Regions from separate parts of the Homo sapiens genome. Here all the other regions are linked to region 3. The links come from fine-mapping of genetic effects on gene expression. A gene starts in region 3. Each other region holds a variant in brackets. All regions are shown on one strand. Distances are between the middles of the regions.

Region 1 (4,358 bases), 39 kb before region 3:
AATTCAATTACAGTGAATTTGCAAGCAGAATCACAGGGACTAATCAGGAGGAAGACTAGATCAAAGGTTAACATCCTACTGGAAACTATAATAATGGTCTTTCATATTAGAACCAAGTCATTATTGACAAAGATCCTAGAGTCTTTAACAGCCACCCTTTCCCAACTTTCTGATATAAAATACTGAGGTCCCAATCTAGTATAGACCCAATCTAGTCTAGTCTAGTCTAGTCTAGTCTAGTCACCTGGGATTCAGCCATTCAGATTTCAAGAATTCAACTTTACAAGGAGTTTCATTTAATAGTCCTGCTTACAAGGCATTTCTTTTTGCATTTACAAGAACCAATTTCTCTCTCTCACACCTCCCAACATTGACCACCTGAGACAAAGGCCATCGCACCGTGGCTCTGGAGGGGCATATTTACCACTTGCGCATTAGGATGTCCTCTCAGAGTACTCCTGGTCTGATTGTTTACAGGAGTGATAATCATCCCGCACTGTTTGCACTGTTTTAGTTGATGCAGGAGGAGACAGACTTTTTTTTGCACTAAAAGCTTAATTACATAAACATTGATATCACATGCCCAAAGTGCACTCTTTTTAGAAGGAGTTTTGGAAAGTAAACAGTAACCCAGCCTACTGTAATTAGTAAGAGGCAATTCCTTGTTACATAGTATATGATTACTAGTGATCACTGAATACAGTACATCCATTTTAGTAGGAATCTGTGTTGTTTCTGTGTAAGTGGTTACTATTTGGGAGGTCCAGGAAGCCCATAAAGGTTTTTTCCGTTGAAATACGTGGTAACTGTGAGAAAATACATTCTTTGGGTACTTGAGTACTTTGATGGAAAAGCAGTTGTGTTTTGGCAGTGGTGGTGGCACTACTTGACATCATGCAATCTAAAATTAATAAGAGAACATAAATAAAGAGAGGAAGATTTAAATGTTCACACAAAAATGTCATTTCTGCAAGATCTGTGGTGTGGTGCCAGTTTTCAAACTTCTTTAGCTGTGCCACCCTTAAGCAAAGGAACCCTTGCTTAGAAGAAATAACGTAAGAGAGACAAGAACAAAACCACTCTGGCTTAGGGATTGTGAGCAAGAGCAGAAAAGTATCCTTCCCTCAGTTAATTCTTTTCTCCTACAGACAGCCCCATGCATCAACATAAAAACCAGCCCAGGAATAAAAGGAGCCTGGAAGAGACTCAGATGGCCCTGGAATCAAATCTCAGCACTATGATCTTGGGGGGTAAAAATAATTTAATACTAATATCAATAAAACAAATAACTTACATCAATTAAGCACTTTCTAGGTGCCTTATCTGCATTAATTCAACCCTCACAATAATATGAGACAGGTACTATTATTACTGCTATTTTATCGATAAGTAAATTGAGGCTCAGAAGAATTAAGCAATTTGTCCAAAGATCCCACAGCCAGCACTAAATGGCTGAGCTGGGATTCAAACCCCTACAGTCCAACTCTGTAGTCCATGTTAATAACCACAAAAATTCTTAACCTCTTTGGCCCAATTTGGTTCAGCCATCCTAATGCCATCATAAAAATGAGGAAAAGTGTCCTCAGCAATCTTGAGAAAAAGTAACCTGAACAAGGCATTCAAAAGAATGATCATTCTTTTTATCAAGAATAGCATAGAAAACATGCCCTCCAGATACTCACTAGTAACCTCAGTGTTGAATAATCTGTCAAATAGCTCCTGTCAAATATCTGTGTGAGCCAGTTACTACTTCAGGGATGGTTCA[T/C]GGGACATACAAACTACTAGTCTTCAAAAAAAATAATAATAATTTGTTATTCCAAAAGAATCAGTGAAACAAGGGTGAAAATAGAGAAAATAAATGAAGTTCAGTATGCAGCCAGATAGAAGATGTATACAGAAACCTATATGTATACCTCCTAACCAATGAAAAGGAGATCCTAGTCACAAAAGCAAATGAAAAAAAAACATCTAGCATGTATTAAATGCTTATTAACTAAAATGCCTAAAACCACCAATTATGGCACTGGAGATACAGTGGCAGAGCCTCTGTCCTTAAGAAACTTACATGCTGGTGCAGGAGGCAGACAATAAACAAAGAGGCAAATATGAATGTGATAGGTCAGGTGATAAGTGCTATAAAGAAGTATAAACAAGATACAAGAACAGAGTTATGTGGGAATGCATGATAGACACAGTCAGGGAAGGCCTTCCGGTACGGTAACATTTCAGCATAAGCCTAGATCTGGAGGAGGGCATTCCAGGAGAGGGGGGGGCAAGCTCATGGTTAAAGTGAGATACACCCTGGGAACGTAAAAGGGATGCATAAAGGGCCACGAAAGCCAAGCCATGCTAAGACCTTGCTGGCCGTGGTAAGGGCTTTAAACTTTATCCTGAGATGGGAAGCCATTGAGGAGTTTTGGAGAGAGGAGTGATATGACTTAATTTACATTTTCAGGTTTACTCTACAGCTCTGTGGGAAACAGTCTATAAGGGAGCAAGAACAGATGCAGAGAGCAATCAGAAGACCACGTATTAAATCTGCAGACCCTGGGCAAATCCAGCAATGGATGCACAAGCCTTATACAATGAAAACCACAAAACTCAGATGGGAGAAATAAGAGCTTTAATAAATAGAATACTACCCCGTCCCCAGAAAAGATTCAACATGATGAAGATTATTTTTAGTCCCTCATTAATCTATCAAGAGCTAACATTTTATAGTGCTTACTATGTGCCAGGCACTGTTCTAAGCACCTTACGCATGTCAACACAGGCAACTCTCTAAGATGGGTATTACTATTCTCATTTCTAATATGAGGAAACTGAGGCACAGACCATGTAAGTAACTTGTTGTAGAGCTAGGTTTTCAAACAAGTAGTCTGGCTACAGGTATTCCTCCCTACCAATCTGCAAAGAACCAATTTGCAAAGAATGCCTTCTCTCTACAAAACTCTCATACCTGTTCCAGACAGAAAAGCCCAGGAGCCCTTCTAGATAGAACCTTCCAAGATGGAGGACTAAGGAAATGGAAGGATAGAGCAGTTTGTACTGGAAGATCAGAAGATTAGGTCTCCTGGGTTTCACACAACCCACACTTAGGGCCCCTCTCTCCACACACATCCCAGATTCTCAACTGCAGATCCTGGGTCAAGGCAAGGCCTTAAGGATCCAGCCACATAATGTCTCTCAGAGACAAAATGAATTTTGCCAGAGGCTCTGTCATTTCAGGAATGCCTGTATGGAGAAATCAGGAGTCAGAAAGAGGTACTGACCCCACACAAGGCTACTTTTCTTTAGAAGTCTGATTCATCTCTCAAAAATTCAATATTGTGAAAGTGTCAGTTCTTCCCAACATGATCTAAGTTAAATGCAATTGCAATCAAAATCCCAGAAAGTTACTTTGTGATCAAAAAACTGACTCTAAATTTTATACGAAGAGGCAAAAGGTAGCCAACACAACACTGAAGAACAAAGTTGGAGGACTGACAGTACCCAACTTCAAGACTTACTAAAGCTACAGTAATCAACACAGTGTGGTATTGGTGAAAGAAAAAATAAATCCATGAAACAGAATACAGAGTTCAGAAATAGACCTGAATATATATCACAAAAATATAATCAAATGACCTTTGACAAAGCAGCAGAGATAATACGTAGAGAAAAGATAGTATTTTCATCCCTCCCTGACAACCATCAAAGAGGTCTGCCAGGGACTCGCTCAGTCTCCCCTTTGCTCTTTGGCTGAAGGCTCTGAAGTGATGACTGCCTCAGGCATTCTCAGGGAATGATCCTGTAGCTATTATCCCAATGCACGTGAGACCCCGAGGAGCTCACAGGTCAGTATCTCTAAAAGGATTGCTAGGAAATCCACTTTCTTGACTCTTTCTCCTCAATAAGGCATCAGAGACCCTAACCTAGAACAGGACATCTGTATTCCAGAGGGACAGAACTAATAGGAGATAGATATCTATAGATATCTATATCTATAGATATAGATATAAAGGGGAGTTTATTAAGTACTATTAACTCACACGACCACAAGGTCCCACAATAGGCCGTCTGCAAACTGAGGAGCAGGGAAGCCAGTCTGAGTCCTAAAGCTGAAGAACTTGAAGTCTGATGTTTGGGGGCAGGAAGCATCCAGCACGGGAGAAGGATGTAGGCTGGGAGGCTAAGCTAGTCTAGACTTTTCATGTTTTTCTGCCTGTTTTATATTAGTTGGCAGCTTATTAGATGGTGCCTACCCAGATTAAGGGTGAGTCTGCCTTCCCCAGTCCACTGACTCAAATGTTAATCTCCTTTGGCAACACTCTCACAGACACACCCGGGATCAATACTTTGCTGCATCCTTCAATTCA
Region 2 (4,358 bases), 77 kb before region 3:
AAAAGCTAAGGAAATTACAGGTAGCCAGAAACTATAGAAAAGAGAGGAAAGGGAGAGGATGTGAAATGTCAGAGGAGAGGCAGAATCTTACAAATGTCCCAAGCAGAGAAAGGAGGTGTCACTTTCTTGGGTGTGTCTGACCTGGTTGTGGGCAGACAGGAGAGAAGGAGCTAATGTCACCAAGCTGGCCCCAACACCTCCTTCCTCCATGCAAATGGAAGACTGAAATCAGACTGGTCTGCAATAGGCCACCCAGAGGCTTGGCAGTTTGAAAAAGTAGATCTGATTGCTAAATGTGGAACTGAGTATTATACAATCTGAGCTGGTCCAGTGAAATCAGCACTTCAATATTCACGAGGGAGGTGTCTACCACCCTAGAGGAAAGTCTTAATTGTGCAAAGAGGCAGATGTGAGAGACCCAGAGTTGGGCCACCTTGTCCTAGGCCATTTCCCCACATTTCAACTTTTAGCATGGGCTCTCCCACCACCCTCCATGAGAAAAGGCACCTCCTTCCTCCCCTCATCCCACCCCTTCCCAATGCACTGCATAGGTGAGGGAGGCAACAGAGCCATGCCCAGTCCTAGAACAGAAATGTGGACCAAGCATACCGCATTCAAACCCTGGATGCGCACTAGTGAAAGATTCATTGATTGTTTGTTGAAGGTGCAGCCAGAGGACAGGCCCAGGGGCCACTCCCCAGGCCAGCTGTGCCAGGCAGCACCTGCTGCCACACCACTGTCTTCTGCTCCAGCCCCTCTGGAGCCTATGTCTTGTTCATTGTTATGGAAGCTCTTTCATGCCACAGACAAAGAACCTTAACAATCACAACTGACTTCTTTGTTAATGGCAGTTTATTGTTGTTAAATTAATATTCCGGTTCTCACATGATCAAATTCTCTGACTAGAATCCAAGAATATATTATAATCTATATTTTCTCAGAACCAGAGAAGAAAAGGTAGGAGAATAATTCTTAATAGCAGGTCAACTTCTTCTCTGTCAAAGAACTCACATGATGGTGATTTCCAGTGGACAGAGAATTAAACAGGACCCAGGTGTCCAAGTGAAGCTCTGCAGGTAGAACCCCAGTGCCGAAGTCCACATGGACACGGAGCCACCTAGCACTGGCAGCCGCCCATTCTCTGGCAGGAAATGAAGGAGAGAAGACCAAAGGCAAGACTTCTTCCAGAGACTCCAGCAAGCCACTGTACCAACTATGCCTTATTCAAATGGTGTGCAGTATATTCTTCATTATAATAAAAGGTCTACCCATACAATCACCCAGAGAGGTAACTATTTTTACTAGTTGACAAAAAAAAGAGTAAGAAAGTTGAAATCATAAATTCAGTTAATAAAATGTATGACCTAGATTCTATAGCACATGCTAGAAGGGGGATCAAAAATCTAGATCCACGCTAGCAGCCAGTAAAAAAAGAGAGGCACAATCAGTTAACAGGATCCGCAGATCAGTATGGTAAAATCAAATCAATTGCCTAGGAGAAGCATAATTATTCCGGAGCAAGGGAGAAACTTCACGTTTTCATAGACAGATTTTGTGTGATGGGATCAGCAATATCCATGACACCCTTATAGTAAACAGAGCCCAGTAGAACTCATTACTTTTGTGTGATGTTCTCAGAATAGTTCAGAGGCTAGTGGACAATATGGGCCAAAGGTGAAAGCAATTCCATGGAGACTAATATAATATGGTCCAGGCACAGTGCTGTAAATACACAGCAAGCACCTTGTGCTCAACATGTGCCAGGCACTGTTCAGAGCACTTTGACATAATGTTTGAGTTTCTTACAAAATGTTTCTATTGAGTAATTAAAATATATTTGAAAATCTAGAAGCACTGTTAGAGGACCTAGAACAGTGGTTCCTCATATTTGCCCCTCCTATAACAGATTCGAGGAGCCAACTCCTTTCCTAGCAGGCATACTGGTCCATACAGCAGTGGTGTGCATGGCAGACAGGTCCCTCCCCCACCCCAATCACTGTTCTAGAGGAACAGTGCATCTTCCTCTTCTACAGGTCCTTCAAAATCACCGTTCTCCAGCAAGCTTTTTAAAGGTAAACAGCAGTGAAAGATAATGTTCCAGATGGAAACCCACAGTATCACTATCCTTTGCTTTTGATGAAGTCAGAGCCATGTGTTTTCATGATCTATATAGGACTAGGATGTTAAAAAAAACTGCGTTCTTCAGAAGGGCATAGGCCAGGATCAAATGCCACCTCTGCCTGGAGAAAAACTTGGAAAGCATCTGAGAACAGGGCCAAGAAGAGGATTGTCTTGCTGAATGCTAATACTCATCAGCCTAAGGTAAGGATTTGCCTTTGGGTGAATCTGTATATTCTGTATTCTTATAACCTGGCAACAGGTTCAATCACGTTCTGGTATCATTCTTGCATTATAAAATGACTACATCATCAAGGCATAATAAGCTTTGTGGTTATCAAAATGGGATTCCAATTTATTGAGAAAAATATTTTAAAAGACTGAGTTAGGACACATCTCTGTTTTGCTCTACTTTAAAGACAGCTTGCTTGGTCAACAAGTATACCTGCTTCTTTAATAGTGGAATTGCAAATAGAAGGCTTGGATGGATAGTGGATCCCTGCATGATTCCAGGTTTGAGGTGTCTCTGAAAAGTCTTGTCCATGTTCCTGATTAGGTAAGTCAG[C/T]GATAGAGCAGTTGCCCAGCTCTCCACGCATGAAGTCAGGTTGCAAAAACCATGCCCACATTTCACAGAGAAGAAAGTCCAATCAAATTCTGAAGGATGCTACGTGCTAATTTTCTGAGGTTTTTTTTTTTTTGGGAGGGGGTTGTTCTTTTTGAGACAGAGTCTTGTTCTGTCACCAGGCTGGAGTGCAGTGGTGCGATCTAGGCTCACTGCAACCTCTGCCTCCTGGGTTCAAGCGATCCTCCTGCCTCAGCCTCTTGAGTAGCTGGGTCTACAGGCATGCACCACCATGCCCAGCTAATTTTTTGTATTTTTGGTAGAGATGGGGTTTCACCACGTTGGCCAGGATAGTCTCAATCTCTTGACCTTGTGATCTGCCCACCTTGGCCTCCCAAAGTGCTGAGATTACAGGCATGAGCCACCGTGCCTGGCCTACATGCTAATTTTCTATTGTTCCCCACTGTGGGATGGCAAGTGACTATAAAGGAGAGTATCATCCACCCCCGTTATACTTGTTAAGGATGCTCAATCCACAGATGAATATAAGAAAGAGCTAATTTTTACTCAACCAATGACATTAGCCACTAGGCTAGACCTGCCAATGGTAAGCTGTGTTACATATATTTGATCAAACTTCCTCCCCCTCTGTTCTGATGGTTATTGCTACAAATGTGACAGGGAAAAGTCAATCTTCTCATTCAAATTTTCAGACCATTCATTCAAATGGTCAGAGCTATTTCTGATACTGTAATTCAGGTTAGTTACCTAAAAATATAGTGAGAACCATGTGATCTGTGTGCCCTGTGGAGAACTGTTAACTCCAGACATTTCCACATCCTCTTCAATTTTGACTAAAGAATGCCACAGTGAAACATACTACCTCTCCTATATCACGGAACTGAATCAAGACAAGGGCTTCTCGAATGGATATTTTTAAGAACTCAGCACCCTTAGTCAAGATCATTGAAGCCAAGCCACCTTTGTGTCTATCAAGTGTTGCTCTCAAGAGGCTGAAAAAAGTCTTGGACACAAGGAATTCATCCTCTAAAATTCAGACCTCGCGGAGGCAAATATAAAACACAGCACAGAGTTGTCATATCAAGGTCTTCCCTAGGCCTTGGGAGTAATATTCCAGAGTGTCTTCAGAAACAGTGACAACACACCTCCTTGATTCTTACAGGTTATCCTAGGGTCTGTTTCTGTAAGACCCAAACTGCTACCACTGCCGTGGCTGGGCAAGCCTAATGTGCAGCTTGAGCAATTAACAGCCTAAGGTGTGGGTATTTTCTAAGCCATCCCTAACTGAGAGGGGCCTCAGGAAAATGTATCAGCTGTGCAGGGTATTCTATGGTTGGGATCCTGGAGTTGATCATGATAGTCAATCAGCCTCAGCAGGGAGAGGACAGAGAGAGAACTGTGAGTAGCCAGGAGGGAGAGGACTGACTGACCAGCAAGATTCCAGCAGGGATAGTTAAGTCCCCACATAAGGGGCAGTTTGGACCGTACAATGATACTAGCCTAACCTAAACCAGGTCCTGTCCCTACCTCTCCCATCCCTCCCCTTGGTCACTGAGTAAGAAATTTACTCTTGATAAGTTCCTCATGCACAGAGAGCTGGTTGCTGGCATACTCAAAGAAATCAAGATTTCTGCACCTTGGAGAACATTGCATTTTA
Region 3 (4,358 bases):
TCTCAACTTTGAGAAGCTCTGCTCTACAGTGTTGTCAGACCATGCACTCCACAAATATTTACTGGATTTTCTCTGTATCAGGCTAGGAATTGGGAGGGTCAAGGACCAAGGTCTTTGACTTTGAGAAGTTCACAGAACCATCAGTCAGTCCCCTGCTGTGCCTTCAGACCAAGTCCAGACTTCTGTACTGGACAGCTGGGACTATTTTCCAGCCTTGTCACCAGCTTTCCTGACTAGCACTTGACATAAGAGCCAAGCTGGACCACTGGCCACTTCTCATGGTGAGTCCATGCCTGCCTGCCCACACAGTTGTCACAGCCCAGGCCACACTCTACCCTTCTCTGCCTCAAAAACCCCAGGAGGGATCCTTTGAGGTCCATCACATCACCCTTTCTTAAAATTATCCCAGATTTCCCTGCTCAGATGAAAGACAGGAATTCCCATAACTTTGTTCCTACCGCCTTCATGTCATTGATCTCATTCCACTTACTCTTTTAAAGTCAAAGCGCATCTCCCTTAGCTACCCAGTAAAGAAGGCATCATGGTAAGCAGCTTATCTCTCCAGTAGCAATAAGCTAACAACTGTCACATCACCAAATCTTAAAATAGTATTACTAATAATTGAAATATGTTAAATAAAACATGGATAAATGCAATCAGTGAAAACCTCATCAATCATCCCCATCTCCCACTTCAAATTTATTTAGCTATGAATTTAAGCAAAGTACAAATGGGTTGCCTCTCTTAAGCCAAAGAGAAATAATTTCTAAATTAGATAACACTTACAGCTTTCCATACACCTATAATAATGAAAGACTGAATATGCTGAAGATGAATTATGTCGAAAACCAACTACTTTTCTGTAGTTGACCATTTAACTTCACATAATACACTACAAATTTGAAAACACTTCAGATTTGTATTACAATCAATTAAGGAGGGGTTGAGAAAGGAGAGAGACGAAGAGAAAGACAGGAAGTAGACCAAAATATAGAAAAGGGACACGGATCTATACCAAATATCTGGCTGCTCTAAAAGTAAAAATATAATTAGATTCGTTTTTTAAGAAGATTAAACACTGGCAAGAATGCCTGTCTTAATCCTATCCAAACGCTGGAAGTTCTGTTCTCTTGTTACATAATCTTATTTTCATCCGAGGAAAAACTGCGGGTCTGGAATCTGATGTGATGAGGTGAGGAGGGAGCCCACTTTTAAATAGGACCGTCCCCATCCTGCAGTCTACTGGGACGCGGCGGCTTTAGATTTTAAAAAGTGTGCTGTATTTTTGCACTTACACTACAGAACTGGCTTTAGCCGAGGCCCTGCATCTAGACACACGCTGTGTCCACCAGAGAATTGCCTGGGCTGACAGACCTAAAGCTTCCGCAACCTCCTTAGGCTCCCTAGTCCACGCCGCTGCTCCCCGGGCTGAGCAGGGCTGGGACGCGCCGCACAGAACTCAGGGACCCCACCTCCCTGCGCATCTCCAGGGCCACGCTGGCACCTGCAGGAGTGCGGACTGTCCGCGGATCCCAGGCAGGGTTGGGTGGAGATTCGCAGCCAACCCACAGGAGTTCTGCCCTCCTCCCAGGCTTCTGGCCAGTGGAGTTGGAGAAGGGTCCCCGTCCTCGAGCCTGGGACACGCTCCGGGGCTCACAGAGACACTGACCCACACGTCCCCGTGGTTCGTAGCTCTGGGGGCGCTCCACTCCCTAGGTAATGCTCCCGACGGGGATCCCAACCCCGACCGCGCGGCAAGCCCGGGGTGTGGGGAGAGCCCACTGACCTGGGTACGGGGCCGAGGCTCCTCTCCGGGCGGCTCAGGTGTGCGGGCCGCTCCCGTGTCCCTCCCACCTTCAAACATGAGAGCCCAGAAGCGAGCGACGGGCCACTGGCCCACCGACCAACTGCCGGACCAAGCGCCCGACCAACCAGCGGACCGACCGCAGCGGCCGGGGCCGGCGCCCACGTGACGGGGCGGGGACCTGCGGAAGGCTCTTCCCGGAGCGCCGCGCCCCCACCCCGGGACCTGCCACAGGGACCACCCCCTTGGGCACCCGCTCCCTCTCGGGCACCGAAGAAGCCTGCTGGGACCCGTCCACCAGGGTTCCTGTTCCCGGGGGACCGGCCTGGTCAGCCCCGCCCCTTCGAACCTGCCTCGTCCCCACCCCCTGGGCCGCGCGTCCGGGCCCCAGCCCCGCCTCTCTCGGCGGACCGCGCCCCCTTCCGGGAGCCCCGCCCCGTTCGCCGCGCCTCCTCCTCCGCACAGCTCCGGTTGCGGGGAGGCCCGGGTGGGTACCCGGCGCTCCGGCTCCCAGTCTCCTGGGCTTCTCCAGTCCTTCAGCGCCGTTCTCCGGTCACAGGGAATGAAAGCGAGGAAGAAGGAAACGGTGTCGAGAATTGCGAAGAGAGAAAGCATAGAAAACCCACATTAGAGGCACTCCCAGAGCAGAAACCCTTCGGAGCATCCCGACTTCCTCGGCCCGCGTGCAATCCAGGCAAAATTGAGGTTGTCTCTGAGCCGCCCTCCCTAAGCAGGTCGGAAAGCCCCCGAATCATCCCAGGTCCCGCCGCGCTGCACTCGCAACCTGGGGTGGAGGTCCCTCTAGTGGTTGGCACCAAACAAAAGTTCTGTCTTATGAAGAGCCGAGGTCAGGAAGCATTTCCCTGTGCCCAGCGCCAAGGTCTGGGACCTTAGGTCCAAGAAAAGCGTTGGCAATGTCTGACCACAGGAATGGGTTCTCGAACTGGGGAGGACTGAAGCTGGAGATCTGGTCCAGCCCCTACCTCCAGCGTGTGGCCTGAACCCGTTTTGGTTGTACTGCTATGTTGTGGCCCTGCCCAGGCCTCCAAGGACTGGCTGCTGTTAAGCTGTTTAAAATCCCTGTAGGCCTCAGATGGCAGCGACACCAGGGACTCGGCATAGTCCCCAGCTCTGGCAGGAGTCACCACAGCCCTAGCCTTTAGTTCTCTACAGGCTGGAGTGTCGACAAACTCCACAGGACACAACTTTTTCAAACCAAATTTACCCTCGCGGTCTGAAATGACCAGTAGGCCCAGGAGAATTTTACATGTGAACAGAACCTAACCCACCCTGGCAAATATGAGACGTGTGGTCACTGCGGGAACCTGGCCAGCAGCAGACCAAAGCACAGCCAGCAGGGGAAGGCTGGGGCCCGCAAGAGTTGTGTTACAACAGGACACCCTTCAGTTCTCTTTCACTTCCTTAAAATAGCAGCAGAGCGACTTTTGTAGACGCAGGCTGCCACAGTTCACACAAGGTCATGGCTGTTTCCGAATCCCACCCTTTATTGCCCTAGCGGAGCCACTCCCCTTACCTCCGCCCCCAGAAACTGCTAGCCTGTTCTTAAATTGATACAGTTACCTTTTTAAATGTTCTAAGTCACCGGCTCTGGAGCTTCTTTGCACTTTGGAACCAACTTGCGGGAAGGAACTTTAAAAATACTGATATCTCGATCCATCCCCAGAGGTTCTGATTTAATGGTCTTGGGGATATGGCCACGGCATGAGGACTGTTAAAACTCCGCAGGTGATTCTTATGTGCAACAAAGTTTAAGAACCACTGATGTAGGCCATGTCGATGTCAGTCTTCACTTAAATCCAACAAGACCCCAGAGCTAAAACGTTCACCTGAAAGAAACCCCATTCCCAGGCCTGCATACTGACCTGCGCTGGCTCACAAGAAGCAAAGTGGTCCCTTAACAGGGGCTTCCTGGAGAAAATGTCTTGACCTAAAAGAGTGATTCGAGCTGCAGGGATTTAAGGTAGGTACCAAGGTGAGTTGTTTGGGGCAGATGTGCCCTGCAGAGCTGTCAATCAAATCATATCCCAGGTGGAATCTAGACAGCACATTTCAGGCAACCTCCCCTCTGTGCCTCCAAAGGAACTATGGTTGCAGGACTCACTCCTATTGATAAATCTACCCCACTATCCTCTGTGAGGCAGCCCACATTCCTTCTATCTGTGAAATAGGTAGGTAATAGGGCAGGTAATATCACATTTATTTATTCATACCTGTCTCATTCCACAAAGGATTTGGCCTCTCTGTACCATTCTGTTAGAACTGTGGGTAATTACACTGTATCCATGGGTTGAGTAATTCCCTTCTGCCAAATATCTACTCAAATGCTATGGAAAAAAACATTTTCTCTTCACTGCCTATGGTCCCAGCCTGGGCTTGGCAAAGACAGGAAAACAGCTGCAAGCACACAAAGCAAACCTTCTCATGTGACCAACCTGGAAAGACAGAGGCTTCAGCACGTGACACAGACTGGCACCACAGCCTGCACTTGTGACTCGAACTTAGCTGAATTGGACAAACACGTGGGAAACACTGA
Region 4 (4,358 bases), 62 kb before region 3:
GCTCATACCACACACTCAGGTTTATCCTCTAAAGAAAGGGCATGAACAACTTGCAACATAAACCCTCAGCTTCAGAGCATTCAAAGAGAACTCCCTGAAAGCTTTCCTCCGGAAATGCAGAAGCTCATTCTGCTGACAGCAGATGTGTGCTCCACCGGATAACATCAGAGTGAGAACGAGTTAAACAACTTCCGAATCCAATGCATTTAAAAAGGCAGCAGCTTCCTCCCTGTGTCCTCAAACTGAAAAGCGGTGGGCACATTCTTCTGGTCACGGTGTTTGGAGCCTCTGACTGTTTAGGTGCCAAAGTTAAAATAACCAACTTTCCTCACTCCATTCTTGCCTTTCTGTACAGAGGCTCATTCACTAGAATGTCAGTGGAGAAACAAAGACAGCTGACTGTTTTCTCCCTGGTGTCTATAATTAGATTCTCATGAAGAACTTGGCCACAGCAGGGCTTTGCTGGACAATACCTCCCCCTACCACACACAGGCACACACACCCCAAAACACCCCAAAGCGTCTCCCCCTCACTTATCTCCACGGAGACCCAGACAAAGCAGCCAGTCACTTACCCTCTTCAGCCACGAGAAATGCTTGTAAACATCAATGTCCCCATCCATGCTGGGCACCCATGTCAGCAGTTAGATGCCTTGGTGGAAAAAGCCCTTTTCCTGGCTGGAGACCAGTTCTCTCCTCTTCCTTGCCTCTGCCCCCTCCCCCCTCAAGAACTCCAAGCTGTGTTCAAATTTCCCCACTTCCCTGGCCTGCGTCCTTCAGCCTCTCCCTAGACAGTTTCAGACACACAGCGACACAGAGCAGACCGTGCTGCTTCAGTGTCCTCCCCGACCACCCCAACAAACACACACACACACACACACACACACACACACGCACATACATGCACGCACACGCACCAGGACTGGGATTCAGAGCCCTGCGGAGAAATCAAATGTCACACAAAGGTAGAGAAAAAAGAAAGAAGACTTGGACAGAAGTTGTAAACATGACACACACGCACACACACACGGGACCATTCTCAGTGATAATACCGGAGCCTGCCAGAGGGAAACAGTCCTGAAGAAAATTCCTTGTCTGGCTTCCCCCTTCTGGAGTGGCTGGAACTCATTACTGAGAGCCCCGATTTCCTGTCTCTGCTTCACTCTGCATTTACCCAGGGCTCCCAGCTGCTCTCAGTTTATTTGGGACTGGGGAGAAGACTAAAAATAAGTGCTGCTCTTGGAGGAGCTCACTGGTTCCCACACACAGCCTGACCCCCGCCCTGAAGCCCACGCCCACCCATTTTCCAGGCGAGTGACGGGCTGTGCCCTGAGGAAAGCCTGTTGTTTCCAAAAAAAAGCAGCTCCAGTCTGGGTTCTTGGTCCTGCTGTGCGACGGGCCCAGCACAGAGCGTTTGCTGTCCTTGGCACTGGTGGTACCATCCATTAGAGACCAACTGCCGCAAACTCAGGGGAGTCTGGCCCTGGACTGTTGGCCACCAGCCAGGGCACCCTGGGGGCCACATTCTGAACAGGGGCCAGGGCTGGAGGGTCCTGCCTCTCTGGCTGTCCCCCACTCTGGGCTACCTGCTTTACAAACCAAGGAGGTGGAAAGGTTGAGGCTGCTTCACGTGCATTTCCATGAGACTCAGGGAGCAGTGCTGGGTAGACAGGGGCCTTGGAAAGGCTGGCGGAGACCTGGAGCTGCAGCTGTTTTCCTCCTTTCAGGGCAGGTCACATGCAGGCTCTCCAGGTGGCCCCTCCAGCACTCCCTAGATGCCACCCCCCACCTCCTCCTATTCCCATCTCCTTTGAGAGCTCCCCACTAAAAACAGCTTTTCTCCCTTCCCCAGCCCTTAATGTGTGGCCTTTGGCTATGGCTGATTATCAAAGTGACCTTTGATGTGGGTGCGGTGGGAACTGTGGTTACACGGTGGGAA[C/G]TGTGGTTACACGCAAGGCCCCGAGCTCTGCTGTGGCAAAGGACTTGCAGATGCACAGCTTGTGACTGCCTGGGCCTTCCCAGTTCCCTTGGGGGTCACCTCCGGGGTTTCCTGGAACTCCCAGTCTGAAGAGCAGTCCTTCATGCCCCTCATGCCGCATGCCCCTCAGCATGGCTTCAATGTCCACCAGGGCCAGAAGCAGGGCCCAAAAGGGGAGAAACAATGCCTGGCAGCACAGTCCCCGGCAGGCTGGGCCAGCCCACAGAGATCACAGAGGCGGCAAGGAGGAGAGCTCTAGCCAGCAGCTGGCATAAGGGGAGGAGTAAATTCCTGGAGACACACCCAGACAGAGGCCAGAAAGGAAAAGCAGGCTTTGCTGCCCATGCGCTGAGCTCTAGCCCCTTGCTCCTCACCTCTGGCCCTGCTCCACAGCACAGTGTGACCCACCCAGCCCAGGTTCCCTGCCCGTGCTATGGCAGGATGTTGCCAAGGAAGAACATCTCTAAAGGTACAGGGGTCAGTAGGTTGGTTTTTCTCTGTCTAAAAGCCTGAACAAGTCAAATGAAGAAATTCATCCAGTCAATACACATTTTCCCCGCATCCAAGGCAAATGAAAAACTTCATGCCCTGGGTTAAGAATTATCATATGGTATGCAATAAAGGTATATCTGGGACTCCAAGGAAGAGGAGGTAGACAAGCTGATTTGGGAGCTGGACAGGGAGAGGTGGCGCAAGGTTCCAGCCTCTACAGGATGGTGGAAAATTCTCCCCTCTCCTGGGAGGAGTGCAGTGCTCTTCCTTAGGTTCTGGTACAAGAGAGGAGAAAAGAGAAAAGAGAAAGGTGGCCAATGTGGCTGCTCTCATCAGCCTTGCTCACTCCCAGCTTACATAGAGCTGTGGCTCAGGTGTCCCTCTTCTATCCCTTCCTGAGCACCTAAATTCCCCTCTCTACTTCATCACTGACCTTGTCACACTGGACCACTCCTATTGCACCAGACTGTCAGAAGTGTGTCTGATTTCCAACTCACTTCTCCTACTTCCATGCCTACAATTCTTAGCACACAGTACGAATTTAAACATTTTTTGGATGAAAGAATAAGGCTCAAATGATAAGACTGGTAAAGTAAGACTAAAATTCTATGTGAAGGAAAGAGACTTGAAGGTCCGTTTCTCCAGGGTAAAGATGTTCGACACAAAAAGGAAAAGACGGGGCCCATTTCCTCTGTTAGCTCAACTCAATGTGTGATGAACAAAGGTGGGGGGTGCAGGGTAGGGGAGAGAAAGGGACAGAAAAGGGAGGAAGGGAGGGAAGAATCCAGATAAACTGCAGCTAAATTCTTGACATTTTTATGGCATTCTCAAGTAGCAAGTCTTATCTCAGCCTTGTTTTTCCTTAAACACCAAGTACATTTTACTTACGTTGTAATTCAACTCAAAAATCACAAATTAACACCCCAAAAGACCTAGGAGCAGGTTGGCAGGAGGGAAAGGGGAAGGGCTGAGTGAAATGGGATGGATTCAGAAGCTAAGGCACCTCCTCGCTCACTCACCCCACCCCCAGGGGCAGCTGGGTCCCTGTCGTGGCTCCCTCATCACACTGGCCTGGCAAGGCAAACCCATGGCTGCACCACTGCCCTAGAAGTCCATCCTGTCCAGGGCACCTCACTTGATTTACAGATGGGATTCCAGGGATCAGATGAGCCCCTAAATATGTTCGTCAAATATATAGAAAGTACTACTATTTGTATTCATAAATCTTTATCTGAAAAAGAGTTGTCAGATTATCAGAACAGTCCATGACTCCCAAAAGGCTAGAAGCCCAGCTTTTAATTGGCCGAGGTAGTTACTCCCAAAGGTCTAGGCTCCCCTTGTTATTGGGAGCTCGGGGGCCTGGGCTTGCTGCTCCCATTATACTGCTCCTGTGAGGTGGTGTCTCAGACTCACTGGACCCCTCTCTGAAGACAGAAGTCCTCAGGAAGCACAAAGGGTACACAAATACGGGTCACTACAGTGACCTAACAGTCCCGAAGGCCTTCCTGGAAGTACTTTGCTCATCTACAAACAGATTCATTACTGCCTGCAACATGCAGCAGCCAGCTGTGGGAAAAGGGCAGGAGACTGTGAGGCTGAGCATTCTGGGAGTAAAAACACAGCTAAGAGGCCAGGGTGGTCAGGTTTGCCGGGGAAAGTCACTGTAGCTTGCTCCACCCCTGTCCTAGGGTCTAGAAGAGAACCCCAGGATTGCCACCTACCTGGCTGGAATTCCAAGTACTTGAGGGAATGGCTGAAAAAGGAGCTGAGGCCCCCTGAGGTGTTACTCCTGCTGCCTACCAGAAATCAGCAGCATCTTATCAGGCAGAACTGTAAACTGAGAGGAATCTCATGGTCACGTGCTGTTCCACTGACCTATCACCTACAGG
Region 5 (4,358 bases), 25 kb before region 3:
ATTCGGGTGATTCTGATTCTGACCAAAGTTGAGGAACTGATGGAATGCAAACACAGCCCTGCACCAGGCACCCTTTTGCTTAGACAGCCTCAGGGGCTGGCCACCAGCCACACAGTAGAAATCATGGTCTATCATCATATGGACTCAACCTACTTGGTCACGGCTTTAACTTTTACCATACATACCTTTTGGCAGACCTCTGCCCCATCCTCACCAGATGCCTTATCACTAAGGCATCTGATCCTAATTGTTAGTTAATTGGCTGTCTGCACTGCTTTCCAGCTTTTATGCCCATGCCTACAGCTGTCCCTGCTAAATTCCCATCAAGCCAGCTCTTCCAGGTAATCATACTTAATTCTGACTACCTAAATGGGATCTCCCTGATCATCTTTTTTCATCCTGAAGGAAAGGAATGACAGCAGCTGTGCACAGCCATCTCCCTGAAAACTGTGCCACGTGTCTGGGTCCCTGTGGGGTCCCCCATTCTGTAAGCACTGGATAAGTGTTTACAGATTTATTGATAAAATAACCAATTCATTGTCCATGGGAAGCTAAAGCCTGGGAGATAGTGGGGACTGGAGTGAGGTTGCAGCATGTTCCCCTACAACAGCCCCAAACTCTTCCCATCCTGAGCACCCACCTCCCTCTCTATATTCTCACAATGGGTGGGACCCAAATGCTTCCCATCCCACCTTGGTGATGCCCCCATGGTCACCAAGATAAAAACCTGGGAGTCAGCCTTGGACCTTCCCTTTTGTTACCCACATCCAACTGGGCACCAGATCCGGTAAAATCTCCTCCCTCTCTTTCAGATCTGTCCCCTCATCTTCACCTGCCCTGCCGTCATCTCCCATCAGAGTGGCTGCACTGGCTTCCTAACCAGTTTCTCTGCCTCCAGCCTCACCGCCCCCCCACACCCCTCATCCTCCACACTGCTGCCAGGAGGGTGGGTCTATTTCACAAATCTTACCAAGGCTTCCCAGCATTCACAACGCTTCACCAGCTTTCTATCACTCAGGCAACAAAGGGGTGCTTGGGGACCTGGAGACGAAGTTAAGGACCCACAGAGCAGTTAGGAGAGTGGGTTCTGTAGTCAGACCTGCATGTAGATCCAAGTTCTTTCCTTCATGAGCTGTGCCCCGACAAGCTCTTTAACATTAATGAACCTCATTTTACCTATTTATAAAATTCAGGTGAAAAGAGACACATTGTGGGACTGTAGAGATTCAAAACTGGGTGGGAGTTCACAACCCCAGCAGTTTTAATTCTCCTGGCCATATCTGGCTCCTGCCCTGAGCAACAGCCAAGCTATTGTCCCCAGCTTGCTTCTGCTTTTGGGGCTTCTTCAGTGTTTTAGCTGAAGTCCTTCGTTCTACCTGCTCAACTCCCACTCCTGTTTTGAGGCCAAATTCCATCATCATTATCTCCAAGGATCCTCTCCCATCCATCCCCCAGATGGAAGTGACTACTTCTGACTGGGTCCCCCTCGCCACTCCCAGGACAGACTTCTCCAGGGCACTTTTGTCTAAGTGGTAAGGCCCTCACAGGCAGGGCCATATCTCTGACCCCGGAGCTCAGCTCCCATTCTAAAAGGGAGAAAATGAAAGGAAATAAAGAGGTCACCGGTCTACACTGGCAAGGCTCTCAGCGTAGCAGTTCAAGTTGTCCCCACCTTCTGCCCAGGGCCACAAGCTGTACCTGTCCTCCACAGGTCCTATAACATCCAGAGGTCACGACCCCCACAGGATCAGATCTGACAGTGGAGAGGAGAAGCCGCACACCTGGCCTGCGAAGACAGCTCCTCAGAGCAATGGCAGAGCCCACAGACACTGGCTTTATATCACAATGAGGGACAAGGCCATTGTGCTAAATTTCCCTCAGGACAGAGGAGCCCAACACAGCGAGATATCCTGTCAGGACAAAGAGGAGCCATAGCAGGACAGAGGGGCCAGGCTGCTGAGAACGTTGCTATCAGAGTTGCTGAATGCCTTCAGTGAATATCGGAGTCTAATAAAAGTGAAGAGGCAGAGCTTTGTTTTGTTTTGTCAATGAATAGAAGCTTAAGTAGCCTAAAAGAAGCTGAAGAGGAGAAAATAGAAGAATGCCACTGAAGGTGAACAAGCATGCTTAACTGGTCCCCATCTAATCATAGTATCAGTAACTCCTAAGAGCAAACATTTGTTCAAAGCTTTACAG[C/G]AACAAAAATATTTGGCGCATACAAGGTTCCTTGTTTCAACCTAAACATCCTAGATCAGGCTGTTCTGATTAGTCAGTTAAGCTCAGGCCAGTGGGGGCTGAGATCTATCAGAACTGCAGAAAGGGCCCTGAATCTAGACACAGGCTGGCAGTGCTGGGTGGTGGCAGGGGATGAATGCAATATTTCTTGCTTAGCGTCTTTTTCCCGCTATACCAGGTTAGTGAGTTTTATGCACCGGGTATTCCCAGCCACTCCCTGTCAGGCGAGGTCCAGGATATCCTTAAGAACATTTGTGCTGGAGCCTAGTTCTGCTGAACCCACTGGAAGGATTCCTTTTGCTTTCTGGTCCTTCCACTGAAGACACAGCCCAAGTCCTGTCACATGTCCCTGCTCCACCACCAGCCTCCTTTGGCAGAGCCAAGCCCAGATGCTTCCACTTAAGCATTCCCAAAAAGCTCGAGCCCTTCTCACCAAACCACAGCCCTTTAAGCAAGGCTCCATGACCCCAAACAGCATTTCCAGCAACATATCACAACAGCAGGGCATTCAGTCAGAAAGCTGCACACTGTCCTCTAAAGAAGGCAAAGAGCAGCAACAGGCACTGAGACCTCACCTCCGGGTGCCCCGAAGTCAGACTCCCTCTGAGCCTAGCTGTCCCACAGTCTCAGCAGCGACATCCTCCTCCTACTGGAAATGGCAAGCTTTTTAAGAGAAACACCACCCCAAAGACATGAGAATGAGACACCACGAGCCCAGCCCACAAGGAGGAGCGCAGGGTCTGGCCAGGAAACGGGTGTGAGTCTGAGGTTCTGATGGCTCACACCCAAAAGCACATCTGACCTTCTGGGCTTCAGGAACACTAAGAAGCTGATGTCAAGTTTCCTTCACCGTATTTGCTTGATGTTGTTGAATGCTCGCTTCACCCTCCTCTGACTCTTCTCACCTATTTCTGCTCTCGATATTCTGCCTTTGTTCCCCTCTCTCTCCAAGCTGATCCTTTTCCCAACTCAAGCACTGATTAGGGTAAACCAGCCACAACCAAGGCCATGCCTTAATGCCAGGTCTGTCAGAGAATGGTTTGGGGAGATGCCAAAGGTCAAACAGTGCAGGTACTCCAACAAGGAGAGGGATTGGGGAGTGGGGAGCGGGGAGGGCAGGGAAGCGAGGCAGGGATCTGTGCCTTTGGGAAGAATTGAGATGGGGAGCCAGACAGCATCCAGGGAGCAGAGCATCACCAAACCCCATCAGTGTGCCCTTCAATACTGTAAGACAAGTATATCAGTGCCCTCATGGGGATAGGGCCCACCGTAGCCACTTAGAGAACTTTCGGAGAGGAGGCTCTTTCCCTTCCTTCTGAACCGCTCAGAAAGAGTGGGTCTAAGAAGTAAACGTAAATGAGAGTCTATCTTTCAAGGCTAAGATGTGAAGAGCCAGGACTAGGCAACAGATAACTCACACGTTCTAAGATTTGGCTGCCTGCCCTGGCCACACAGCCATTCACAATAGATCAAGATGATGGTGAATTATTTCGAGCCTGTGCAATATCCACCTGTGTGTAAAAACCACCTGCTCTGGGAGTTCACAGGTTTCCTGTCTCCTTTGAGAAGCTGCTGCCTCTGTGGGGGGGAAAAAAAGTGTCCTCATTTTTGTTTTCTCATTTAATCTTCAAGGGGGTCCTGTGAGGGATATAGTACAATTATCAGCCCTGTTTTACAAAGATGTAGCTCAGTGGCCAGAGAGCAGGGGAATAGTGACAGCGAATGAAGCTGCCCCAGCTTGAGAAGGGTCTCTCACCTGTCACCCCTAGAACATGGCCTGTAGCCATTAGGCAATGACAACCACTGAGGGAGCCACCTAGAAGCCACCCACTCTTCCCAGCAATAACGTAGGAGGAGGAGGCGGGGACCTGAAGGAAGGATCCTTCTCAAGGAGCTCAAGGATCTCTCTGGATTCCCCTCCCCAAGTATAACCATGGTCTGCCAGCCTGTCCCTTCTACCTGCCCACTTCAGGTCCCCACCTATTCCCTCCCTTCCCACACTTCCTTGACTCCATTTCCTCTTTCACCATAGCCCTATTCTGGACAACGTGGAGGCTCTCTCCCTGGCTCTGTTCATCAGAGTGTAGAGTCCTCACCTCTCTCCAGCTTGAACGTGCTCCTCA
Region 6 (4,358 bases), 150 kb before region 3:
GAGAAGTGCTTAAAGGAGCTGATGGAGCTGAAAACCAAGGCTTGAGAACTACGTGAAGAATGCAGAAGCCTCAGGAGCCGATGCGATCAACTGGAAGAAAGGGTATCAGTGATGGAAGATGAAATAAAAGAAATGAAGCGAGAAGGGAAGTTTAGAGAAAAAAGAATAAAAAGAAATGAACAAAGCCTCCAAGAAATATGGGACTATGTGAAAAGACCAAATCTATGTCTGATTGGTGGACCTGAATGTGATGGGGAGAATGGAACCAAGTTGGAGAACACTCTGCAGGATATTATCCAGGAGAACTTCCCCAATCTAGCAAGGCAGGCCAACGTTCAGATTCAGGAAATACAGAGAACGCCAGAAAGATACTCCTCGAGAAGAGCAACTCCAAGACACATAATTGTCAGATTCACCAAAGTTGAAACGAAGGAAAAAATGTTAAGGGCAGCCAGAGAGAAAGGTCGGGTTACCCTCAAAGGGAAGCCCATCAGACTAACAGCGGATCTCTCAGCAGAAACCCTACAAGCCAGAAGAGAGTGGGGGCCAATATTCAACATTCTTAAAGAAAAGAATTTTCAACCCAGAATTTCACATCCAGCCAAACTAAGCTTCATAAGTGAAGGAGAAATAAAACACTTTACAGACAAGCAAATGCTGAGAGATTTTGTCACCACTAGGCCTGCCCTAAAAGAGCTCCTGAAGGAAGTGCTAAACATGGAAAGGAACAACCGGTACCAGTCGCTGCAAAATCATGCCACAATGTAAAGACCATCAAGACTAGGAAGAAACTGCATCAACTAACGAGCAAAATAACCAGCTAACATCATAATGACAGGATCAAATTCACACATAACAATATTAACTTTAAATGTAAATGGACTAAATGCTCCAATTAAAAGACACAGACTGGCAAACTGGATAAAGAGTCAAGACCCATCAGTGTGCTGTATTCAGGAAACCCATCTCACGTGCAGAGACACACATAGGCTCAAAATAAAAGGATGGAGGAAGATCTACCAAGCAAATGGAAAACAAAAAAAGGCAGGGGTTGCAACCCTAGTCTCTGATAAAACAGACTTTAAACCAACAAAGATCAAAAGAGACAAAGAAGGCCATTACATAATGGTAAAGGGATCAATTCAACAAGAGGAGCTAACTATCCTAAATATATATGCACCCAATACAGGAGCACCCAGATTCATAAAGCAAGTCCTGAGTGACCTACAAAGAGACTTAGACTCCCACGCATTAATAATGGGAGACTTTAACACCCCACTGTCAACATTAGACAGATAAACGAGACAAAGTCAACAAAGGATACGCAGGAATTGAACTCAGCTCTGCACCAAGTGGACCTAATAGACATCTACAGAACTCTCCACCCCAAATCAAGAGAATATACATATTTTTCAGCACCACACCACACCTATTCCAAAATTGACCACATAGTTGGAAGTAAAGCTCTCCTCAGCAAATGTAAAAGAACAGAAATTATAACAAACTATCTCTCAGACCACAGTGCAATCAAACTAGAACTCAGGATTAAGAATCTCACTCAAAACCACCCGACTGCATGGAAACTGAACAACCTGCTCCTGAATGACTACTTGGAACATAACGAAATGAAGGCAGAAATAAAGATGTTCTTTGAAACCAACGAGAACAGAGACACAACATACCAGAATCTCTGGGACACATTCAAAGCAGTGTGTAGAGGGAAATTTATAGCACTAAATGCCCACAAGAGAAAGCAGGAAAGATCCAAAATTGACACCCT[G/A]ACATCACAATTAAAAGAACTAGAAAAGCAAGAGCAAACATATTCAAAAGCTAGCAGAAGGCAAGAAATAACTAAAATCAGAGCAGAACTGAAGGAAATAGAGACACAAAAAACCCTTCAAAAAATTAATGAATCCAGGAGCTGGTTTTTTGAAAGGATTAACAAAATTGATAGACTGCTAGCAAAACTAATAAAGAAAAAAAGAGAGAAGAATCAAATAGACACAATAAAAAATGATACAGGGGATATCACCACCGATCCCACAGAAATACAAACTACCATCAGAGCATACTACAAACACCTCTACGCAAATAAACTAGAAAATCTAGAAGAAATGGATAAATTCCTCGACACATACACTCTCCCAACACTAAACCAGGAAGAAGTTGAATCTCTGAATGCACCAATAACAGGATCTGAAATTGTGGCAATAATCAATAGCTTACCAACCAAAAAGAGTCCAGGACCAGATGGATTCACAGCCGAATTCTACCAGAGGTACAAGGAGGAACTGGTACCATTCCTTCTGAAACTATTCCAATCAATAGAAAAAGAGGGAATCCTCCCTAACTCATTTTATGAGGCCAGCATCATTCTGATACCAAAACCTGGCAGAGACACAACAAAAAAAGAGAATTTTAGACCAATATCCTTGATGAACATTGATGCAAAAATCCTCAATAAAATACTGGCAAAACGAATCCAGCAGCACATCAAAAAGCTTATTCACCATGATCAAGTGGGCTTCATCCCTGGGATGCAAGGCTGGTTTAATAGACGCAAATCAATAAATGTAATCCAGCATATAAACAGAGCCAAGGACAAAAACCACGATTATCTCAATAGATGCAGAAAAAGCCTTTGACAAAATTCAACAACCCTTCATGCTAAAAACTCTCAATAAATTAGGTATTGATGGGACGTATTTCAAAATAATAAGAGCTATCTATGACAAACCCACAGCCAATATCATACTGAATGGGCAAAAACTGGAAGCATTCCCTTTGAAAACGGGCACAAGACAGGGATGCCCTCTCTCACCACTCCTATTCAACACAGTGTTGGAAGTTCTGGCCAGGGCAATTAGGCAGGAGAAGGAAATAAAAGGTATTCAATTAGGAAAAGAGGAAGTCAAATTGTCCCTGTTTGCAGATGACATGATTGTATATCTAGAAAACCCCATTGTCTCAGCCCAAAATCTCCTTCAGCTGATAAGCAACTTCAGCAAAGTCTCAGGATACAAAATCAATGTACAAAAATCACAAGCATTCTTATATACCAACAACAGACAAACAGAGAGCCAAATCATGAGTGAATTCCCATTCACAATTGCTTCAAAGAGAATAAAATACCTAGGAATCCAACTTACAAGGGATGTGAAGGACCTCTTCAAGGAGAACTACAAACCACTGCTCAAGGAAATAAAAGAGGATACAAACAAATGGAAGAACATTCCATGCTCATGGGTAGGAAGAATCAATATCGTCAAAATGGCCATACTGCCCAAGGTAATTTACAGATTCAATGCCATCCCCATCAAGCTACCAATGCCTTTCTTCACAGAATTGGAAAAAACTACTTTAAAGTTCATATGGAACCAAAAAAGAGCCCACATTGCCAAGTCAATCCTAAGCCAAAAGAACAAAGCTGGAGGCATCACACTACCTGACTTCAAACTATACTACAAGGCTACAGTAACCAAAACAGCATGGTACTGGTACCAAAACAGAGATATAGATCAATGGAACAGAACAACAGAGCCCTCAGAAATAACGCCACATATCTACAACTATCTGATCTTTGACAAACCTGAGAAAAACAAGCAATGGGGAAAGGATTCCCTATTTAATAAATGGTGCTGGGAAAACTGGCTAGCCATATGTAGAAAGCTGAAACTGGATCCCTTCCTTACACCTTATACAAAAATCAATTCAAGATGGATTAAAGACTTAAAGGTTAGACCTAAAACCATAAAAACCCTAGAAGAAAACCTAGGCATTACCATTCAGGACATAGGCATGGGCAAGGACTTCATGTCTAAAACACCAAAAGCAATGGCAACAAAAGACAAAATTGACAAATGGGATCTAATTAAACTAAAGAGCTTCTGCACAGCAAAAGGAAACTACCATCAGAGTGAACAGGCAACCTACAAAATGGGAGAAAATTTTCGCAACCTACTCATCTGACAAAGGGCTAATATCCAGAATCTACAATGAACTCCAACAAATTTACAAGAAAAAAACAACCCCATCAAAAAGTGGGCAAAGGACATGAACAGACACTTCTCAAAAGAAGACATTTATGCAGCCAAAAAACACATGAAAAAATGCTCATCATCACTGGCCATCAGAGAAATGCAAATCAAAACCACAATGAGATACCATCTCACACCAGTTAGAATGGCAATCATTAAAAAGTCAGGAAACAACAGGTGCTGGAGAGGATGTGGAGAAATAGGAACACTTTTACACTGTTGGTGGGACTGTAAACTAGTTCAACCATTGTGGAAGTCAGTGTGGCGATTCCTCAGGGATCTAGAACTGGAAATACCATTTGACCCAGCCATCCCATTACT
Region 7 (4,314 bases), 81 kb before region 3:
AGCGGTCCAAACTTCATGGAAACTAACCAATGACCTTACCTCTCTCATAAGGGTGTGAGGACTGCTCACCTATCAGGTGAGTGTTTTGATGCAATTAAGGAATGTGGGCTGTAAAGGGCATGTATTAGCACTGACAAAACTTGGCTCCAGAAAGGTTATTGTGCTTCACAGGCCAAAACATGACTCTAAGTCATAAATATAGAGAAGCCACATTACACATACGGTGGCAGAAAAAAAGTCATCTTTCTGAAGAACGCTGAGAATCCCTATTAAAAATATTAATTAGTAAAAACTCATTTACAGGAAGTCATTCAAATTATGCACTAACTATATATTAACAATGGTTTTCATAGCCTTCTCTATTAGCAAACGGCCCCAGGATCCTTTTTCTTTATTAAGAGATGGTTCAAAGCAAGAAGAGAGAGAATGAGTGTCCTCCCCAAAGTGAAGAAATTAGCAGTTGATAAACTGAGATCCTTTAGACCTTTTTGGTTAGAGTTGTTGCCATTTACATATAGATTATCCAGAATTATTTCTCAGTCTGAAATGGAATAATAGATGGTGCATGAGTTGATGTGAATTCATTTATGAGTGTTTAGATAAACTTTCTGAATTATAAAGCGCCTGTTTAAAAAGGAACTAATCTAAATTAATATGCCTACTTTAAGATCTCCATTTTTATTTTCCCAAATGATTAATGAATTATTGAAACATATTCCTGGAGTTGACACATGGTTAACATTCCACTTTTAACCAAAAAAAATGTTAAAAAAAAAAAAAAAAACAAGAACGGGCTCTTTCTATCAACTTGGTCCACCTTACACGCAAACCTTTGTGGGTGGGTGTTTATTAATCCCTGTGGCCCAACACTCTCAGCCATCCTGAACTAACTCTACTTTCAAAAGGGCAGGACTCTGGGGGTGGGCTTTGCTCACTGGAATCCAGAGTTTCTGTTTGTGAAGGATGTTTTCTGGTTAATCTTATTATGAGGGTTAAACATTTCTATGGTCTATACCATGCCTTGAGGCCATGTGTTGGTGATACTCAAGGAATCATAGGATCTCTAGCATTCTATAGCTAATTGTTCAGCTCCAGGGGCTTTCTGAACCTCAACGCTGATTCTAAGTATTACAAATGAAGGGATGTAGGAAATCCAGACAAAATACATAAAGGTCATAAAATGTGACCTTTGTTCACTAAAAACAACTATTTTTGAGACCCTAATAGATGCTAGGCATAATTTTAGGTACTGGAGGATACAGAAGTTAAAAAAAAAAAAAAAGGATAAAAATCCTTTTCCTAAGGAGTTACATTATAATGAAGATACAAGAGATTCTGGTTTTGTTTTTAACTAATCCTAGAAACAAAGTATTTTGTTATGTGTGATTTGCCTTGTTCTATGAGTAGAACCAGGAAAACTTTCTGGGCCAAGGACTCTAAATTAATTCAGTCTGGCTAAGCTGCTGTGTGCATTAAGCAAGAGGCTCTACCCTGCTGAGAATCTGCCTAACCAGCTCCACTGCAGAACAGCAGTGATCACTTAACAGACACTCCTGGAGTCTGCCCATAAGCTCCCAGTAGAGTAGAAACTACTAGGGTCAACTTCTGACTTTACTGGCAAGCAGCTTCCCAATTGTGTTAGGATTATTTAAATGGGGATTATTCAAGAATTTGGAATTTTAGAAAACTATGAATGTGAAAGGGAGCATTATTACACAGGACTTTGAAAAATTAAATTGTAATCCTCTGTAAATAGGAATGTGCTATTTCAATCATGAAGGGTCCTGGTTCAAAAGTTTGCAATTTCATACTGTTTGCTGCAAAATCTTACATTGGATACTCTTTCATTAATCATGTCATTGGGATAAGAGTTTCAAATTACACATCCCTCAAACATCTGTGCTACAATGTGCTATTCAATCTGGCCCTTGCTACCTTTCTAAAGGCAGCTCGCACCACCCTTTTGAGCACAGACTGCAGGCACAATGGCCACTTGCTGTTCTTCCCACACCCCAAGCACACTCTTGCCTCAGTGTGTGGGCTGGACTGACTGCCTGCTCTGCCTGGAATGCACTTCTCCAGGTATCTGCATGGCTCCCTCCTTGGCTTCCTCCTGTAAAGGAGATCTTCCTTTTACTACACAATCCTCATCCTGCTTTACTTTTTTCCAGCGTTCTTACCAGCACCTGAAATAGTTAATGTATTGGCTTATT[G/A]TCAATTCACACTCTCCTTTTTCTTTTTTTTTTTTTTTTTTTTTGAGATGGAGTCTCGCTCTGTTGCCCAGGCTGGAGCACAGTGATGCGATGTTGGCTCACTGCAACCTCCACCTCCTGGGTTCAATCAATTCTCCTACGTCAGCCTTCCGAGTAGCTGGGATTACAGGCACCCATCACCATGCCTGGCTTATTTTTGTATTTTCAGTAGAGACAGGGTTTCACCATGCTGGTCAAGCTGGTCTCCAACTCCTAACCTCAGGTGATTCACCTGCCTCAGCCTCCCAAAGTGCTGGGATTACAGGCACCCATCACCATGCCTGGCTTATTTTTGTATTTTCAGTAGAGACAGGGTTTCACCATGCTGGTCAAGCTGGTCTCCAACTCCTAACCTCAGGTGATTCACCTGCCTCAGCCTCCCAAAGTGCTGGGATTACAGGCATGAGCCACTGCACCTGGCCCACTCTCTCTCTTTCAAATGGAAGATCCACAAGAATGGGAATTTAGTCTGCTTCTTTCACTGCTTTATCCCAGCATCTAAAACCAGCATCTCACAAGTTGTAGATACCCAATTATTTTATAATGAAGAAATCAATGAAGTGAAGAAAAATACAAAACTGGAATGTAAAACTATATATTTGGTATGAGCTCAGTTATTTACAATAGAGGCAAAAGAAAAAAAACCAACAACACTGGAAAAAAGGCCGAAGTGTTAACCTGCTTCTTCACATTTTTAGAATTTTAAAGGTTTTTAAAATCATTCATTACCCTTATGTTCATAAAATACAATGAAAGAGTAAAATAAGTAAGGTAAAAAGAGAAAAAACAAACACACTGCCACCTCATAACCTTAGTGCTCCAAGCTAAAGCCCATAGCCTGGGGTGGGTTCCAGGCCCCGCTCAACCCCTCCCTTCATTCTACCACCAGTCTAACTCATCACCCTTTAAGCTTTTAAGGAGCTGGGATTAGGATACTAGCCTTTATATTTTCCAAATCACTAATTAATATCTGATGCATACCAGACCTTGAGTAAATGCTTGCTTAATCAATTTATATTTTCAAGAGCTAACACAGCAAAGTGCTGGGCCTGCTTCTTCAACAGCCTTCTTATGAGAATACCTAACTCTATGTCCTACCAAGGCACACAAACTTTCAACAGCGAAAAAGCTCCCTTGATGATCTTTCTCCGTAAAAGGTTTTGGAGCTCCTCTCTTTCAAGCAAGACAGCTATCAAAGGCTTAGCCCCTGTTACCAGCTCCAGGGGATTTGGCATTAAAGGGATCAGTCTAGATCCAGCTTCAGACAATTTGGACTTGATTCATTAGCATTCACCCTTAGGCCTGTATCACCCACAGCTCTGTTTTATTAGTGGCATGAGGATATATCTCCCCTCCCTCGCAAGACTCAGGAGCTTCTGGGGGACAGGGCCCATTTTGTTCATTCTTAGCACCTGGAAATCAGCCTGGTCATGGGGCTGCCAGTGTATAGAAGCGGGTGCTTGGGAGTGCATGATAAATGAATGACTGAATTCACAGCCCCCCTAAGCCAAGTCTAGAGTTAAATTGTCCCCTCAGTTACTTAATGTTTTATTTCAGGAAAAGTCTTTTCTAAAAACATAGGCATTGGAAGGAGAAAAATTCCAACAGAGAAAATCTCTTGGGCTTCCCTTCCACTTAGGGGAAGCTACATAGTAGGAGGTAACAGGATAAGCCGATTCTCACCAAAAAGTACCCACCTGCAATATGAGGGACTCCTTATCCCCTTCTAGACGTGCCAAGCGTTCCTGGTAGGTTTCATTACTAGCAGCACTGTGGTGGTTTACCTGGGACTAAAGAGGACAGAAAAAAAAGAATACACTTAAAAGGTTGGAAAAACATCTTACCAACTTCTAAATGAAATAAGGGATGCATGTAATTTGTGAGGATAGTTTCACTGATTATATGTACAAAACCAATCATCAAAACAGGAAACCACAAGATTTCAAAACTACCATGAGGAGAACCAGATCACATGCCACTGAAAAGTGCGCCCTGGAAGTTGGCACAACCACCTCCTGGATGACCTCACTCCTGGCCAGGAGGGCCTCTGTGAAACTCTAGG

Direction of the effects. Positions count from the first base shown, and alleles are read on the strand shown. Sizes are in standard deviations (SD) of each study's normalised expression. Not every link is listed here.
With allele A in place of G in region 7, the expression in neutrophils of the gene that starts at base 1,909 in region 3 is higher (large effect, 0.81 SD a copy in CEDAR).

Evidence for each region. PIP is the estimated chance that this variant, and not a neighbour inherited with it, causes the effect.
Region 1: its variant is the best candidate, but not a certain one, in a credible set for the expression of PPFIBP2 in whole blood (INTERVAL, PIP 0.55).
Region 2: its variant is the best candidate, but not a certain one, in a credible set for the expression of PPFIBP2 in aorta (GTEx, PIP 0.65).
Region 4: its variant is the best candidate, but not a certain one, in a credible set for the expression of PPFIBP2 in whole blood (TOPMed, PIP 0.61).
Region 5: its variant is the best candidate, but not a certain one, in a credible set for the expression of PPFIBP2 in esophagus mucosa (GTEx, PIP 0.51).
Region 6: its variant is the best candidate, but not a certain one, in a credible set for the expression of PPFIBP2 in esophagus mucosa (GTEx, PIP 0.79).
Region 7: its variant is the best candidate, but not a certain one, in a credible set for the expression of PPFIBP2 in neutrophils (CEDAR, PIP 0.81).

Annotation. Positions count from the first base shown.
Region 1 is chr11:7,550,670-7,555,027 of GRCh38, reverse strand. The region is part of intron 2 of PPFIBP2 (PPFIB scaffold protein 2); the gene reads right to left. Among named protein-coding and RNA genes, the nearest start is that of PPFIBP2, 39 kb to the right of the region's middle. The variant T/C (reference allele first, on the strand shown) is at 1,766.
Region 2 is chr11:7,588,070-7,592,427 of GRCh38, reverse strand. The region is part of intron 3 of PPFIBP2 (PPFIB scaffold protein 2); the gene reads right to left. It overlaps LOC105376535 (a long non-coding RNA gene), which reads left to right. Exons shown (of 4, transcript XR_007062579.1): 2 at 2,034-2,322. Among named protein-coding and RNA genes, the nearest start is that of PPFIBP2, 76 kb to the right of the region's middle. The variant C/T (reference allele first, on the strand shown) is at 2,684.
Region 3 is chr11:7,511,550-7,515,907 of GRCh38, reverse strand. It overlaps PPFIBP2 (PPFIB scaffold protein 2), which reads right to left and starts at 1,909. Exons shown (of 24, transcript NM_003621.5): 1 at 1,787-1,909. LOC124902806 (leucine-rich repeat extensin-like protein 5) reads left to right here. Exons shown (of 4, transcript XM_047428005.1): 2 at 1,303-1,790; 3 at 1,868-3,785. The coding sequence ends at 2,698. RefSeq lists a silencer at 1,814-2,343 and an enhancer at 3,014-3,133.
Region 4 is chr11:7,573,855-7,578,212 of GRCh38, reverse strand. The region is part of intron 3 of PPFIBP2 (PPFIB scaffold protein 2); the gene reads right to left. All of the region lies in intron 3 of LOC105376535 (a long non-coding RNA gene), which reads left to right. Among named protein-coding and RNA genes, the nearest start is that of PPFIBP2, 62 kb to the right of the region's middle. RefSeq lists a silencer at 41-275 and enhancers at 2,694-3,517, 3,518-4,342. The variant C/G (reference allele first, on the strand shown) is at 1,939.
Region 5 is chr11:7,536,806-7,541,163 of GRCh38, reverse strand. All of the region lies in intron 1 of PPFIBP2 (PPFIB scaffold protein 2), which reads right to left. It overlaps LOC124902806 (leucine-rich repeat extensin-like protein 5), which reads left to right and starts at 2,625. Exons shown (of 4, transcript XM_047428005.1): 1 at 2,625-2,826. The coding sequence starts at 2,625. The variant C/G (reference allele first, on the strand shown) is at 2,197.
Region 6 is chr11:7,658,662-7,663,019 of GRCh38, reverse strand. It overlaps a transcript of PPFIBP2 not described here. Among named protein-coding and RNA genes, the nearest start is that of CYB5R2, 13 kb to the left of the region's middle. The variant G/A (reference allele first, on the strand shown) is at 1,781.
Region 7 is chr11:7,592,860-7,597,173 of GRCh38, reverse strand. PPFIBP2 (PPFIB scaffold protein 2) reads right to left here. Exons shown (of 24, transcript NM_003621.5): 4 at 3,950-4,042. LOC105376535 (a long non-coding RNA gene) reads left to right here. Exons shown (of 4, transcript XR_007062579.1): 1 at 1-76. Among named protein-coding and RNA genes, the nearest start is that of CYB5R2, 78 kb to the left of the region's middle. The variant G/A (reference allele first, on the strand shown) is at 2,214.